2 separate regions of the Homo sapiens genome follow, and region 2 is linked to region 1. The links come from fine-mapping of genetic effects on gene expression. A gene starts in region 1. The other region holds a variant in brackets. All regions are shown on one strand. Distances are from middle to middle.

The links. PIP is the estimated chance that this variant, and not a neighbour inherited with it, causes the effect.
Region 2: its variant is the best candidate, but not a certain one, in a credible set for the expression of NACA in whole blood (TOPMed, PIP 0.59).

What each region holds. Positions count from the first base shown.
Region 1 is chr12:56,722,568-56,727,943 of GRCh38, reverse strand. It overlaps NACA (nascent polypeptide associated complex subunit alpha), which reads left to right and starts at 2,645. Exons shown (of 9, transcript NM_001365896.1): 1 at 2,645-2,681; 2 at 3,421-3,492. The coding sequence starts at 3,423. RefSeq lists enhancers at 2,570-2,699, 2,790-2,839, 3,899-4,018.
Region 2 is chr12:56,886,490-56,891,865 of GRCh38, reverse strand. No RefSeq gene overlaps it. Among named protein-coding and RNA genes, the nearest start is that of SDR9C7, 45 kb to the left of the region's middle. The variant G/A (reference allele first, on the strand shown) is at 2,558.

The sequences.
Region 1 (5,376 bases):
TGAGTGTGTGTGTGTATATATACACACAGACTAATTTAATCTTCCAAACAATCCTATCAAGCAGCTACTATTTTTCCCATTTTACAGATCAGGAAACTGACATGAATATATATATAGGTTAATTGCCTAAACTGACCTAATAGATTTAGACAAAGGAGTCTTATTTCAGAGTCTGTCTTTAATGACTCCACAATATTGCCTCTCCTATTTGAGGAGGATTTCAGAATTTCCCATTCCTGGTAAACCCCACTATCTCACTTAATTTTAATTCACCAATCCTAATCCTCATTTCACTACGCTAAGGATTTCAGAAATGTTAAAGTAGCTTTCAAAGCATTTTAAATTTTCACTGCTTCCCTTAAAAGGCGGCCACACCAGGTATGGTGGCTCACACCTGTAATCCTAGCACTATGGGAGGCCGAAGCGGGTGGATTGCCTGAGCTCAGGAGTTCGAGACCAGCCTGGGCAACACGGTGAAACAGGAGAAGTTTTGTGGCAGGAGAATTGCCAGAATCCGGGAGGTGGAGGTTGCAGTAAGCTGAGATCGCGCCACTGCACTCCAGCCTGGGTGACAGCGAGACTCCGTCTCAAAAAAAAAAAAAAAAAAAAGGTGGCCACAGTCGTCTTAAAGCTATTAAATCAGGCCAGGCATAGTGGCTCACACCTGTAATCCCAGCACTTTGGGAGGCTGAGGCAGGCGGATAACCTACGGTCAGGAGTCCGGGCGGGGAGGCGGGTACCTATAATCCCAGCTACTCTGGAGGCTGAGACGAGAATCGCTTGAACCCGGGAGGCCGAGGTTGCAGTAAGCCGAGATCGCGCCACTGCACTCCAGCCTGGGCGACAGAGCGAGACTCCGCCTCAAAAAATAAATAAATGTTGACTGGTTTAGCTAATTCAGGTACAGCAAATATTTGTTGAGTTCTTTTGTAGGGCTGTGGGAAGATATGGGAGGCTTTTCATTAACACAACACTGATTTTACATTCTACTTTTCAAAAATACAGTTGTACAAAGCATGGTTTAAGGTGGGGTCCCAGACACCTAGAATAAATAAGCTTAGAATATCCAAGAAGTGCCAGGGGCGGTAGTTCACGCCTGTAATCCCAGCACTTTGGGAGGCCGAGGCAGGCGGATCACCTGAAGTCAGGAGGAGACCAGCCTGGCCAACATGGAGAAAGCCCGTCTCTACTAAAAATACAAAAAATAGACTGGCGTGGTGGCGCATGCCTGTAATCCCAGCTACCCGGGAGGCTGAGGCAGGAGAATCGCTTGACCCGGGAAGGGGAGGTTGCAGTGAGCCGAGATCGTGCCTTTGCACCCCAGCCTGGGCAATAAAAGTGAGACTGTCCCAAAAACAAAACAAACAGGCTGGGCATGGTGGCTCACGCCTGTAATCCCAGTAGTTTGGGAGGCCGAGGCAGGCGGATTACCTGAGGTCAGGAGTTCAAGACCAGCCTGGCCAACATGGTGAAACCCGTCTCTACTAAAAATAAAAAATTAGCCGGGGGTGGTGGCACACACCTGTAATCCCAGCTACTCGGGAGGCTGAGGCGGGACAACTGCTTGAGCCCTGGAGGCGGAGATTGCAGTGAGCCGAGATCGTGCCACTGCACTCTAGCCTGGCCGACAGAGCGACTCAAAAAAAAAAAAAAAAAAATCCAAGAAGTGCCCAAAATAGCAAGCAAAGGAATTGTATATGTGCCTATGTTCTTTTTTTCTGGGAAGGAGAATCTGCAGCTTTATAATTTCAACATCGGCTAAATTGTCGTGAACCTAAAACAATCAAAAGGGCCGGAATCTATTTAAAGAGTTTATTCAAGGGCAGTGTGAGGATGGACCAACCAGAAAACCTCCAAAGAATGGAGTCAGCCTTCAGAAGTAGAGAAGTTACGATTTCATTTATTTAGGGAGACAGAGGAGTTTTTAGCTGGATTACGTTATCCATACAAGGTTGGAACATAATTACAGAATTTGGTTACAAGAAGTGTTTTTTTTGGGGGGGGGGCGGGGGTACAGCTAACATTGTTTTACGAAGAGTTTAACACGCATGAGTTGCTGTCATCTGGTGACATCGTTTGAGTCTCTCTAGTCATTGAACAGAACAAGAAAAATCGAATTAAATTTATAATCTGAACTGAAGTTATATGTGACCCATCACATCTCTCAAGTTTTAAAATGGGTTTTTTTGTTGTTGTTGATGGGGGGGGAGAGGGTCCAGCAGCTTTTAAATGTTTTCACATCGTGTGTTCCAAAAATAACTGGTTAGCCTAAGTCACTTCCACCCTCCAATGTTGTGAATGCAGTCTCTAGCATTCGCTATTTAATGTCTTCTTCCTGCACTATTTGAGAAATCGCGAGGTCGACTTAATACCGCAGTCGCCACTTCGCGGACCGGAGGGCGGAGTCTGCTTAGTTCTGAGGACTGCGTGGGTCCGCGCAGAGAGCTCCTGCTAGGCCTGCGCGTCCCGTTCTAAATTCTTACCCTTTAGTCCTTGTCACCACCCCCGCCGTGGGAACGGCCTGACAGTCACTCGTCAAAGGAAGTGGCTGCCGGCAGCTCTTGACCCGGAATCGGATCCTAGTCCCACCCCCTCCGCTCCAGGCTTCCTTCTGCAACAGGCGTGGGTCACGCTCTCGCTCGGTCTTTCTGCCGCCATCTTGGTTCCGCGTTCCCTGCACAGTAAGTACTTTCTGTGCCGCTACTGTCTATCCGCAGCCATCCGCCTTTCTTTCGGGCTAAGCCGCCCCGGGGACTGAGAGTTAAGGAGAGTTGGAGGCTTTACTGGGCCACAGGGTTCCTACTCGCCCCTGGGCCTCCGGACAAAATGGGGTCTGCGGTTGGTGTCCTGGCAAAAGCAGGGTAGAAGGGCTGCGGGGCGGGCCCAGAATCCGAGCCTGCAGAGATGGGAGCAGTTGCAGTGTTGAGGGCGGAAGAGGAGTGCGTCTTGTTTTGGGAACTGCTTCACAGGATCCAGAAAAGGGTAAGGGGTCACAGCCTTAGAACCTGTAACACCGTTCTCCCTGTGACAAGCAAGTGTTGGACTTAAAACACCGTCTTTCCCCTCCTGGTACCCCAAAGTCGGCAAACGTAGTCCAGGAGGCCCCAGCCCAGCCAGTGTGAGTATTAGGAGTGGAGGGGGTTCACAGTAGCGTCTGAAGTCTCCCATGATCGAGAGCCAGCCCGGGATCCTCTCCCTCGGGTTGAGAATGCAGTGGGAATTGCTGGCCTTGATAGAGGCGTGAGGGTCACATCATATTTACCTCTTATTCCCAGGTGCTTTGGGGAAGGTTGTCACCAAACACCCTCACGATTTTTTTCTAACAGCCCTCCTCGGAGTTTTTAAGAATACTTATCTCCGGGTTGGGCAAGTGAATGTATCCCAATCAATTTAGGCCTCCTTTTTATTCCCTTCCTTCAGAAATGCCCGGCGAAGCCACAGAAACCGTCCCTGCTACAGAGCAGGAGTTGCCGCAGCCCCAGGCTGAGACAGGTAGGTTTCCCTACCCTCCTTGCCATTAATTAAAATTAACCCTAAAGCCATTTGGTGGGCAAAATGACCAAGGGGAAATACACTTTTTAGGAGGATGGGGTTGCAGCTTTACCAAGGAGGATAGACCGTAAAATTACTATCCTGGAGATACTTCTTTAGGGATTTGGAGTAAAAATAATATTTTTAAGATTCGTGGACGTTAAAAGTACCCTAGCTTGCTTTCTATGTTATGCCTGTCGCCTCAAAAGAAGCTCTCCTGTGGAACCCCCACCTCACATAGGAAAACTCAGCAGGGAATGGGCTCAGTGATTCTTACCTATTGGAACTAGATGACACAGGCCAAGGAGCCCGGAGCATTTGTGAAACTCCAGCCAGCAAGTTGCATCAAGGTTTTAGTTAGCAGAGCTTGGCATTGTGCCTTTATCACATGTCTGGATGAGATGTGTGCTGGTGGTAAATGTGTCCTACTGGGCCCCAGAGTCGTCCTAGGTCGGATAACTTGTTTATGGGTTGGTGGTGCTGAGATACTTCTAGTGTGCTGGAATAGTTCCTGCATCATTGTGTGAAACCCAGGATTGAAATAAATCCTTTTATCCTCAGCGTCGAAATTAACGACTGTGAAGGCTAATTTTAAATTCTGGTTAAAACATATCTCTGTAGAAAACTTAGGAGGAGGTAATGAAAAGTTCTTAAAATGATAGCCTTTCTGAGTCAGTTGTGCAGCGTTAAATGAAGGAAATCTTCAGGCTGTAATTTTCATTCTCACCTTTTTGGTTTTTTTTAAATTTCATTTGTTATTTAAGGGCAATTCCTGTCCCTTTTTGGAGTTACAGTAGAGTTGCTTATAGTTGAAAGCATAAAGTTTCTTCCCACCTGTTTGATTTTAACAGCTGAAGGGATTAATACAGCTGCTAGGAAGGACAATAGGGGGCTCTAAGCTGGAGTATAAACAATATGAAATTCTTGAAGTACAAGGGGCTTAAGGAAGGGAAAAAATAAAGTACTGTTCTCTAAAGATTCTGTAATTTCAGTACAAAACGAGATTTTAGAGATTGTGTCATTGAACAACTTAATTTTACAAATACGAAGATTTGAAATTCAGATGAATTTAGAATAATCTGATTCAAGCTTCAAAACTAATGCATTTACTTCTGAAACAGTCCTTAATGCTATTAAACGTATTCCTGAATAGTCTGAGTTGCATAGTAGGCTTATATTAAGGAAGTACCAATGATAAATACACAAGGTTTTATCTGTAATGATAGTCTATTAGAATGAAGAAGGAAGCTCAAGGAATTGTTGATGGTGTCAAAGCAAGTATTTGAGTGCTTATTCCATTTGAGGTCCAGTCAGAAGAAAACATATTCCATGTTTTTAATTCTGATTCATTATGTTTGGTAGCGTTTTCCTGTAATCGTTAGACTTTGGCCTACCCACTCTCCAGGAAAAACTAGTTGAGCCACCTTGTCTTTTCCATGGTAGGATGCCATAAGAACTTCAGAATTACTGGTTGAGTGAATTTTGAATTTGAATTTTGGTACCACGGGCTTCCCCCCCGCCCCCCTTAACATTCCCTTCTAAGCATTGAGCATTTGTTGATCCAATTCTGTGTTACCTCCTGAATGCCAGAGATACTGTCTTACTGTCATGCCAAACATTGGTGTATTTTGACATAATGAAACACTTAAATTCCAAGTTAAGGAGTGGGGATCCAGTGTATTCTCGCCACTCCAATTGTCTTCTTTGGTTTGTTTTGTTTTGAGACGGAGTCTCACCCTGTCACCCAGGCTGGAGTGCATGCAGTAGCGCGATCTTGGCTCACTGCAACCTCCACCTCCTGGGTTCAAGCCATTCTCCTGCCTCTGCCTCCTGAGTAGCTGGTAT
Region 2 (5,376 bases), 160 kb before region 1:
TTTTTAGCATGAAGGGCTGTTGAATTTTGTCAAAGGCCTTTTCTGCATCTATTGAGATAATCATGTGGTTTTGTGTTTGGTTCTGTTTGTGTGATGGATTATGTTTGTTGATTTGCATATGTTGAACCAGACTTGCATCTCAGGGATAAAGCCAAATTGGTCTTGTTGGATAAGCTTTTTGATGTGCTGCTAGATTTGGTTTGCCAGTATTTTATTGAGGATTTTCACATCAATGTTCATCAGGGATATTGGTCTAAAATTCTCTTTTTTTGTTGTGTCTCTGCCAGGCTTTGGTATCAGGATGATGCTGGCCTCATAAAATGAGTTAGGGAGAATTACCTCTTTTTCTATTGATTGGAATAGGTTTATAAGGAATGGTACCAGTTCCTCTTTCTTCCTCTGGTAGAATTCGGCTGTGAATCCATCTGGTCCTGGACTTTTTTTTGGTTGATAGGCTGTTAATTATTGCCTCAATTTCAGAGTCTGTTATTGGTCTATTCAGGGATTCAAGTTCTTCCTGGTTTAGTCTGGGAGGGTATGTGTGTCCTGGAATGTATCCGTTTCTTCTAGATTTTGTAGTTTATTTGTGTAGAGGTGTTTATAGTATTCTCTGATGGTAGTTTGTGTTTCTGTGGGATCAGTGCTGATATCCCCTTTCTCATTTTTATTGTGTCTATTTGATTCTTCTCTCTTTTCTTCTTTATTAGTCTTGCTAGCGGTCTATCAATTTTGTTGATCTTTTCAAAAAACCAGCTCCTAGATTCATTGATTTTTTGAAGGGTTTTTGTGTCTCTATCTCCTTCAGTTCTGCTCTGCTCTTAGTTATTTCCTGCCTTCTGCAAGCTTTTCCATTTGTTTGCTCTTGCTTGTCTAGTTCTTTTGATTGTGATGTTAGGATGTTGATTTTAGATCTTTCCTGCTTTCTCTTGTGGGCATTTTGTGCTATAAATTTCCCTCTACATACTGCTTTAAATGTGTCCCAAAGATTCTGGTACATTGTGTTTTTGTTCTCATCAGTTTCAAAGACCATCTTTATTTCTGCCTTCATTTCGTTTTTTAGCCAGTAGTCATTCAGGAGCAGGTTGTTCAGTTTCCATGTAGTTGAGTGGTTTTGAGTAAGTTTCTTAATCCTGAGTTCTAATTTGATTGCACTGTGGTCTGAGGGACAGTTTGTTGTGATTTCTGTTCTTTTACATTTGCCGAGGAGTGCTTTGCTTCCGACTATGTTGTCAATTTTGGAATACGTGTGATGTGGTGCTGAGAGGAATGTATATTCTGTTGATTTGGGGTGGAGAGTTCTGTAGACGTCTATTAGGTCAGCTTGGTGCAGAGCTGAGTTCAAGTCATGGATATCCTTGTTAACCTTCTGTCTCGTTGATCTGTCTAATCTTGACAGTGGGGTGTTAAAGTCTCCCGTTATTATTGTGTTGGAGTCTAAGTCTCTTTTTAGGTCTCTAAGGACTTGCTTTATGAATCTGGGTGCTCCTGTATTGGGTGCATATATATTTAGGATAGTTAGCTCTTCTTGTTGAATTGATCCCTTTACCATTATGTAAGGGCCTTCTTTGTCTCTTTTGATCTTTGTTGGTTTAAAGTCTGTTTTATCAGAGACTAGGATTGCAACCCCTGTTTTTTTTTTGGTTTTTTTTTTTTTTTTTTTGCTTTTCGTTTGCTTGGTAGATCTTCCTCCATCCCTCTATTTTGAGCCCATGTGTGTCTCTGCACATGAGATGGATCTCCTGAATACAGCAAACTGATGAGTCTTGATTTTTTAATCCAATCTCCTGTCTGTGTCTTTTAATTGGGGCTTTTAGCCCATTTACATTTAAGGTTAATATTGTTATGTGTGAATTTGATCATGTCATTATGATGTTAGCTGGTTATTATGCCCATTAGTTGATGCAGTTTCTTCCTAGCATTGATGGCCTTTACAATTTGGCATGTTTTTGCAGTGGCTGGTACCAGTTGTTCCTTTCCATGTTTAGTGCTTCCTTCAGGAGCTCTTGTAAGGCAGGCCTGGTGGTGACAAAATCTCTCAGCATTTGCTTGTCTGTAAAGGATTTTATTTCTCCTTCACTTATGAAGCTTAGTTTGGCTGGATATGAAATTCTGGGTTGAAAATTCTTTTCTTTAAGAATGTTGAATATTGGTCCCCGCTCTCTTCTGGCTTGTAGAGTTTCTGTGGAGAGATCTGCTGTTAGTCTGATGGGCTTCCCTTTGTGGGTAACCCAACCTTTCTCTCTGGCTGCCCTTAACGTTTTTTCCTTCATTTCAACCTTGGTGAATCTTACAATTATGTGTCTTGGGGTTGCTCTTCTCAAGGAGTATCTTTGTGGTGTTCTCTGTATTTCCTGAATTTGAATGTTGGCCTGCCTTGCTAGGTTGGGGAAGTTCTCCTGGATAATATCCTGAAGAGTGTTTTCCAGCTTGGTTCCCTTCTTCCTGTCACTTTCAGGTACACCAATCAAATGTAGATTTGGTCCTTTCACATAGTCCCATATTTCTTGGAGGCTTTGTTCATTTCTTCTTATTCTTTTTTCTCTAAGCTTCTCTTCTC[G/A]CTTCATTTCATTCATTTGATCTTCAATCACTGATACGCTTTCTTCCACTTGATTGAATCGGCTACTAAAGCTTGTGCATGCATCACATAGTTCTTGTGCCATGGTTTTCAGCTTCATCAGGTCATTTAAGGTCTTCTCTACACTGTTTATTCTAGTTAGTCATTTGTCTAATCTTTTTTCAGTTTTTAGCTTCCTTGTGATGGATTTGAACATCCTCCTTTAGCTCGGAGAAGTTTGTTATTACCGACCTTCAGAAGCCTACTTCTGTCAACTCATCAAAGTCATTCTCCATCCAGCCTTGTTCCATTGCTGGCGAGGAGCTGTGGTACTTTGAAGGAGAAGAGTCCCTCTGGCTTTTAGAATTTTCAGCTTTTCTGCTCTGGTTTCTCCCCATCTTCATGGTTTTATCTACCTTTGGTCTTTGATGTTGGTGACCTACAGATGGGTTTTTGGTGCGGATGTCCTTTTTGTTGATGTTGGTACTATTCCTTTCTGTTTGTTAGTTTCCCTTCTAAAAGGTCCGTCAGCTGCAGGTCTTTTGGAGTTTTTCGGAGGTCCACTCCGGACCCTGTTTGCCTGTGTATCACCAGCAGAGGCTGAAGAATGGCAAATATTGCAGAACAGCAAATATTGCTGTCTAATCCTTCCTCTGGAAGCTTTGTCTCAGAGAGGCACCTGCTTGTATGAGGTGTCAGTCGGCCCCTACTGGGAGGTGTCTCCCAGTTAGGCTACACGGGGGTCAGGGACCCACTTGAGGAGGCAGTCTGTCTGTTCTCAGAGCTCAAACACTGTGCTGGGTGAACCACTGCTCTCTCTTCAGTGCTGTCAGACAGGGAAGTTTAAGTCTGCAGAAGTTTCTGCTGCCTTTTGTTCAGCTATGCCCTACCCCCAGAGGTGGAGTCTACAGAGGCAGGGAGGTCTCGTTGAGCTGTGGTGGGCTCCACCCCAATGTTATCAATTTCTTAAGGGGAACTTAAATTAATATTTCATTGTGTTAATTAAACTCACTTTAAAAACATAAACTGTGTTCATAAATTTAACATATTTAATTTTCTTTTAAAGTATGTCTTTAATAGAATTGTAAACAAAAGAAAATAAATAAATACAATTATCAATTGTATGACTGATAAACCCTAAATAAGCCTTATAAATCAAGTAATACAACATATAAATATGGCAAAGCCATGTTATCTTAAACTTTCTAATATGATTTATAATATAGCACAATTTTCTTTTATCTTAAAATCACAAATCTAATTGAATACTCATTATACATTTAAAAATTGGAATTAGAAAGCAAATGTGTTTGATAATCTATTATGTGAAATTGTTCATAATATGCCACATTCTCTTTTATTTTTAAATACTTAAAATACTGTATAAATCATTTCCAAATTTAATTCAAAATAATAATTCAGGGTTTGGTTTACTTGACTGTCTCTATACATTACCATTTCTATACTCTATTATAAATCTCCTCAGACATTTACCCAATAAAGAGAAAATTATTTCATTCCAAATAATTTGACATTGCCTTTTAAAGTGGCTGAACTTGGATATAAACCTGAGATTTTGATTGGGATAAGAATATTTATAGCTGTAGACATATAGCAAGAATTTTCTCACAATGATGGGGAACATTTATTAGAAGCCCTTTTAAATGCCCCTATGCTGCATGGGGATGCCTCACACAACCCACTACCCCCGCCTTATAGTGGGTGCCCCTAATTCGCACATCCAGTCTGTATTAGTCCATTCTCATGTTGCTATAAAGAACTACCTGAGACTGGGTTATTTATAAAGAAAAGAGGTTTAATTGACTCAGAGTTCTGCAGACTGTACAAGAAGCATGGTCCAGGGAGGTCTCAGAAAACTTACAATCACAGCAGAAGGTGAAGGGGAAACAGGCACATCTTACATGGCCAGAGAAGGAGGAAGAGGATGAAGGGGGAGGTGCTACACACTTTTAAACAGATCTCATGAGAACTCACTCACTATCATGAGAACAGCAAGGGTGAAATCTGTTCCCATTATCCAATCACCTCCCACCAGGCCCCTCCACCAATATTATGTATTACAATTGGACATGAGATTTGGGCAGGGACACAGATACAAACCATATCATTCGGCCCTTGGCCACTCCCAAATCTCGTGTCTTTCTCACATTGCAAAATGCAATCATCTCTTCTCAACAGCCCACCAAAGTCTTAACTCGTTTCAGCATTAACTCAAAAGTTCACAACCAAAAGTCTCATATGAGACCAGGCAAGTCCCTTCCACCTATGACCCTGTAAAATAAAAAACAAGTTAGTCACTTCCAAGATATAATGGGGCTACAGGCATTGGGTAAGTACACTCATTCCAAAAGGGAAAAATCAGCCAAAACAAAGGGACTACAGGCCCCATGCAAGTCCAAAACCCAGAAGGGCAGTCATTAAATGTTAAAGCTCCAAAATAATCTCCTTTGACTCCATGTCTCACATGTAGGCTACATTGATGCAAAGGGTGGGCTCCCAAGGCCTTGGGCAGTGCCACCTCTGTGGCTCTACAGGGTACATCTCCCTCAACTGATTTCATGGGCTGGTGTTGAGTGCCTACAGCTTTTCCAGGTGCACAGTACAAGTTGTCAGTGTATCTATCATTCTAGGGTCTGGAGGATGGTGACCGTCTTCTCACAGCTCCACTACGCAGTGCCCCAGTGGGGACTCTGTGTGAGAGTTCCAACCCCATATTTCCCTTCTGCACTGCCCTAGTAAAAGTTCTCCATGAGGGCTCCACCCCTGCATCAGACTTCTGCCTGATCATCCAGGTGTTTCCA